2 linked regions of the Homo sapiens genome follow. The protein of the gene in region 1 interacts with the protein of each later gene in a pairwise test. Each region holds a gene or a part of one and is shown on either strand. Other genes may lie near its edges.

The links. Proteins that work in one complex are often made in the same cells at the same time.
Region 2: the proteins of SCMH1 (region 1) and HK1 interact in a two-hybrid assay, tested with the Homo sapiens proteins (one large-scale study listed by IntAct).

Annotation. Positions count from the first base shown.
Region 1 is NC_000001.11:41,026,702-41,029,306, forward strand, and holds the end of SCMH1 (polycomb protein SCMH1), read right to left. Parts: intron 2,045-2,605; coding exon of another isoform or gene 2,026-2,044; coding exon 1,883-2,025; exon of another isoform or gene 1,832-1,882; intron 1,619-1,831; coding exon 1,493-1,618; 3' UTR 501-1,492; downstream 1-500. UniProt on the Homo sapiens protein: Associates with Polycomb group (PcG) multiprotein complexes; the complex class is required to maintain the transcriptionally repressive state of some genes.
Region 2 is NC_000010.11:69,395,347-69,398,846, reverse strand, and holds part of HK1 (hexokinase-1), read right to left. Parts: intron 253-3,500; coding exon 19-252; intron 1-18. UniProt on the Homo sapiens protein: Catalyzes the phosphorylation of various hexoses, such as D-glucose, D-glucosamine, D-fructose, D-mannose and 2-deoxy-D-glucose, to hexose 6-phosphate (D-glucose 6-phosphate, D-glucosamine 6-phosphate, D-fructose 6-phosphate, D-mannose 6-phosphate and 2-deoxy-D-glucose 6-phosphate, respectively).

The DNA of each region.
Region 1 (2,605 bases):
CTGTGTGATGCTGGGGCTCTGGTGGACATTCGGAAGACCACCTGTTCTTTAGGGACTGCTGGAATTAGAAGGACGCTTAGGAATCATTTTTTCCAAGCTCTCCATTTTATTTATTTGAGACAGGGTCTCAAATTGTCACCTAGGCTGGAGTACAGTGGTGCGAACACGGCTCACTGCAGCCTCGATCTCCTAGGCTCAAGCCATCCCCTCACCTCAGCTCCCCAAGCAGCTGGGACTACAGGTGTGCGCCACCACAGCAGGCTAATTTTTGTATTTTTTTTTTGTAGAGCTGGGGTTTCACCATGTTGCCCAGGCTGGTCTCAAACTCCTGAGCTCAAGAGATCCTCCCACCTTGGCGTCCCAAAGTGCTGGGATTACAGGCATGAGCCAGCGTGCTCGGCCTCGTTTTATGTATGAGAAAACTAAGACCAAGAGAAGGGGAATGACTGGTCCAATGAATGCGTAGTGATTTGGCTGTTAACTGATTAAAAAGACACTGGTATCTATATTGGTTTTTATTTATAAACAGATTGACATAAAATAAGTCCAGATGGCAGCGTGAGTAGCTGTGCTGCTGACTTGCTTACAAGGAAGCCTGTGGACAGGCGAGTGGGTGGAACCGACTCCAGCCTGGAAAACCTGCCCTCCCATCCCCCTTAGCGCCTTCTTGGCCTTCCGGCCTGATTTTCTTCGACAGCAGTTCTGGCCAGGGCAAGGAGCTGTGGTGGGGGCAGTATAAGCCAGGGACTCCCTTCCCACAGATGAGGCCTAGGGCTGCAAAAGGGCCCCGTGAAGAGAGGAGAAGGTGACAGGGATCCTTCTCCTCCCCATATGGAGTGATGTGGTCAAGGCTTTATGGGTCTCTCCACCTCAAAGAGAAAGTGCCCTAGGGTAGTGTCCTCTGAAGAGGGGCCACGCCTATCTGCAGAGGGCCTCTCTGGGACCAAAGCAGGGCAGTCTCCCTCCTCCTGAAACCCAGTGTCTAGTGTGGGAGGAGTATTAACTACAGGGTTTGCCCAAGTGCCAGAAACAATAAATTAACAATAAGATCTTTTTGTAAAAAAGGTAGAGGTTTGCACCACGAGTTTGGATTCAGGGGAATCTGGTGAGAAGGTACGAGCTGTGGGGCGATGGGGTGCCACAGCAAGACCAGGACAGAGTTGGCCTTTTCCTCCATCACGTGGAAGGCATTCAGCCTAAACTCCTGGTGAGAGGCCAGCCAGGGTTGAGAAATAAATAGAGGGACCTTAGAGCCCCGGCAGAGCTGAGGGAAGAGCAGCACCAGCCCTGGACCCCCACTCTCCCTCCTCAGTCCTTCATGGAAGGACTTATCATGGCAGCTGTGGCTAGGAGTGGTGGCTCCACACAGCCTCTTGGAGTCCTGAGGTGGCCCGGAACCCCACTGAGGTGCCTGGGGTGGGCTGATGCCCCTCATTCCTAGAAGAATGCCCCCACCTGCTGCCACTTGGTTGTCTAGGCTGCCTCTCCTGGTTCAGAACTTGCCCTGCTTCAGCCGGTCAATGTGGTAGGAGAGCTTGAGTGCAGGCCCCAGCTTCAGGCCCATGTACTTCATCATCATGTCACTGCGCAGCAGCAGCAGGGCCTTGCCATCGATCTCCTGGGGGGTGGGGAGGTGGGCAGAAGTGGAAGGGAGGCACCATCAGAGTCCTGGTTGGTCTGACCACCCCAGGTTCTGATTATAGGCCATCCTGGGAAGTGCCCGCCACATGGAGTCCAGTTCACCTGCTGTGATGCTGAAGCCTACCTGTTCTCCTCAGCCTTTGTCTCTAAGCATCCCTCCTCCCCAAACATCTCGTATTGTCCCCACCAGGTGAGGCTCTCCACACAGGTTCCTACTGAGAGGTCAGGCAGCAGCACCTACGTGTTTGCGAAACAGGTCAGCGTGGGGTCCAAGCTGAGGATCAGCTTCCCGGACAAACTGCATCACATCCTCGACTGTCCATGAGGAGGGGTCCCGGCCACTCAGTCGAGAGGCATCGCGGCTCTCCAGGTATCGGTCCGACCCTGCAGGACAGGAGGGCACCTACCATAAAGGGCGGGGACTGGTTTGTAAATCCCCACCACTCTCCTTGGCACATCTCAGTGGCCTTCTAGGTGATGCTCACAGTAGTGCCAGACGATGAGCTGAGGAACTGGAGATAGCTGGGGGAGGGAAGCATTTCTTCACAAAGGGAAAGCCAAATCTTTGTTTTTTAAGGGTAGATCTGATTTTTGGAAATGGCCAGAAGAAATTTTGCATTGAGGCTATGATTCAGCCCAAACCTGAGACAGTGGTACCAACATGGTAAGGGGACTATTTGGGTGTCTGGGGGGCCTGGTGAGTGGGGCTGTTTTTGCCTTGGCTCTGGGGGACCATTTCTAGAGAGACTGGTAGCCTGGTAAGATTAGAGACAAATCCTTGGCACGTGGGCAAAAAATACCCTGGATTCTTTTCCAAGGCCTGGAGAATAGGTGACCTCATTACAGCCTGATACACTAAGGCAGAAGCTGGTTTTTTGGTTTCTTTGAGATGGAGTCTCGCTCTGTCACCCAGGGGCTGGAGTGCAGTGGCGCCATCTCAGCTCACTGCAACTTCTGCCTCCCA
Region 2 (3,500 bases), on another chromosome or scaffold:
ACTGGAAGGCCCACTCACTGTGGATGAAGCTTGTAGAGTGTCCCGTCCACTCCCACAGTCACATTCAGACGGTCCAGTCCTCTGTTCTCGCGGATCTTATCCACAACCGCAGCCATGCCTGCGCCACACAGCTGTGCGGCCCTCCTGGACACCACCCCGCACACTGTCTTGACGAGGATACTGTCATCGCAGGTGCTATTCAGACCTAGCTGCTGGAGGATAGCCCGGACCTGGAGCAGTGCTAATCGGTCACTGTGGGGGACAAGAGCCAGAGGGCTGGATGAAGCAGGACCCACAAGAGCAGCCTGGAGACCACGTCCAAAGGACGCCCCCCGCCCCCAATCACTGTACTCATCCACAGACAGAGTCAAGGGCAAGTGTTACATGTTAAACTGTGGAGAATTTGGCAAATCTAGCAAAATAAAAATTGGAAAATCTAAACCATTCACTATCTCAACATCTAGGAAAATGCTATTAACATTTTAATATATTTCCTTCCAGTTTATTTTTCCTAGCTGGTATGCTTCTCATGATATGCAAAATGGGATTATCCTTGATATGTGATTTTCTTTCTCTTTCCTGTTTCATGCATTGAGCAATTTCCCACAGCCTTATCTGAGAACAGGATTGGAAACAGCTGCTGCAGTATTCCCTCTAGGGATGCACCATGATTTCTTTAGCCAGCTTGGAGAAATTCAAGTTAATTGCAATTTTCTGCTATTATAAAGAAACATTTTGATAAGGTTTGTTTATAAATCTTTGTGTGCAATTCTGATGTTTTTCCTTAGGATAAATTTCTGGGTCAACGAGCTTTTGCTACACATTGCCAGATGCCTTACAGAAAATTGTATCCATTTACTCTTCAGCAGAGTATTTGGCCACACTTATCCTCACTGGAAAAGAGCATTTTTTTACAACTTTTGACAGTTTTATAAGAAGGCATCACAAGACTGTAGTTCAATTTATATTATTCTCTATTAGTGAGGATGATCTCTTTTTTTTCCATTTGTTTTTTGGCCATATAAACTACTTCTTACGTCTCAAGACTTTTCTCCTGATATATTTGTCTTATTTATATTAAATTGAAAGAGACGATAACTGGGATGGTACAATGAAGACCAGCCAGGCTTCTTGGAGGACTTACCATGTAACATATATTTTACATACATTACCTTACTTACTCCTCAAACAACCAATGAATGTATGATTATTCCCATTTTAAAGATAAGGCAACTGAGGCTGGGAGAAATTGAGTATTGCAAAGCACACAGCCGGTGGAGAAGAGCAGGTGTAGACCAGACCTGCCAAAGCCCACCATGCCCTGCTAGGCGTCTTGTCATACACAGTACAAATGTCTTCCTCAGTTTACCGTTGCCTTTTAAGTTTGATTACTTTTTTTTTTTACTTACAGACACTATGTAGCTATATTTGGCCATTTTTCTTTATGATTTCTTTCTTTGCTATTATGCTTGAAAAGACTTTCCATACCACTTCATACCCATTAGGATGGCTATTCTCAACTCAGAAAATAACAAGTGTTGGCGAGGATGTGGAGAAACTAGAACTTTCACGGGCTGCTGGTGGGAATGTAAAATGTTACAGCCACTGTGGAAAACAACATGGTGGTTCCACAAACAACTGAACAGGGAATTACCATATGATCCCGCAAGTCCACTTGGGGTGCGTACACACACACACACAAACTGAAAGGAGATACTGGTCACCCGTGTTCACAGCAGCATTTGTCACAATATCCAAAAGGTGGAAGCAAGCCAAGTGTCCATGGATGGATGAATGAATAAACAAAATGCAGTGTGTGCATGCAATGGAATATCACTCAGCCTTAAAAATAAGGAAATTATGGCCGGGCGTGGTGGCTCATGCCTGTAATCCCAGCACTCTGGGAGGCCAAGGTGGGCAGATTACCTGAGGTCGGGAGTTTGAGACCACCCTGATCAACATGGGGAAACCCCATCTCTACTAAAAATACAAAATTAGCCGGGCGTGCATGGTGACGCACGCCTGTAATCCCAGCTACTCAGGAGGCTGAGGCAGGAGAATCGCTTGAACCCAGGAGGCAGAGGTTATGGCGAGCCAAGTTTGCACCATTGCACCCCAGCCTGGCCAACAAGAGTGAAACTCCGTCTCAAAAAATAAAAATAAAAAAATAAGGAAATTCTAACACATGCCACAATACGGATGAACCTTAAGACATTATGCTAAGTGAATTAAGCCAGTCACAAAGGACAAATGCTGTATGATTCTATTTATATGAAGTATCCAGAGTTGTCAAATCCATAGAGACAGAGAGTAGAATGGTGGTTGCTGGGGTGGGGGGAGGGAGGAATGTGGAGTTAGTGTTTGCTGCGTACAGAGTTTCAGCTGAGAAGATGAAAAGAGTTCCGGAAATGGATGGTGGTGATAGCTGTGCGACTATGTGAATGTACTTAATGTCACCGAACTGTATACTTAAAAACCATTTTGCCTGGGTAAGAGCAGTGTATAGGCTTGTTAGGTTTTTTTTTGTTTAAGGTTTAATATTTTTTTTCTTTTCTTTCTCTTTTTTTTTTTTTTTTGAGACAGAGTCTGTCTCTGTCGCCCAGGATGGAGTGCAGTGGTGCAACCTCAGCTCATTGCAACCTCCGCCACCGGGCTCAAGCCATCCTCCCACCTCAGCCTCCCAAATAGCTGGGACCACAGGAATGTGCCACCACGCCCGGCTAGTTTTTGCACTTTTTGTAGAAATGGGGTCTTGCCATGTTAACCAGGCTGGTCTCGAACACCTGAACTCAAGTGATTCACCTGCTTTGGCCTCCTAAAGTGTTGAGATTACAGGCATGAGCCACCGTGCCCAGCCTACACAGAGCCTACGTTAGGTTATTATGACCATTCTAAGAAGAACACAGTATTTGCACAATTGCTTTTGTTTTTTCTGACCCTTTTTTCCTCCTTCTCACACAGCGTGCCTTAGAAGACAGCAAAGGCCAGGAAGAAATGTACCCTGGACAGGAGAAAAGTAGAAAGAAGGTGGAACAACTTGCTGAGGGGCATCAGCTCCTGGGTGGCCTGGCACTGAACCCCAGGCTGCCTTTCAGATAAATCCAGGTGGGCCCTATGCACCCCCAATACAAGTATGTGTAGTGCATCTTTACCATCTGAAATGGAATCCATATGGCCCTCTTACACACATAATTTCAAATAAATCAATATAATGCCCCAACATAAAGGATGGATAAAAGGAAAGTAAGTAATTTACTTATTTATTGAGATGCAGTCTCGCTCTGTTGCCAGGCCAGGCTGGAGTGCAGTGGCGCGATCTCAGCTCACTGCAACCTCCACCTCCTGGGTTCAAGTGAGTCTCCTGCCTCAGCCTCCCAAGTAGCTGGGATTACAGGCATATGCCACCACACCCAGCTAATTTTTTGTATTTTTAGTAGAGATCGGGTTTCACCATGTTAGCCAGGATGGTCTCAAATCTCCTGACCTCATGATCCGCCTGC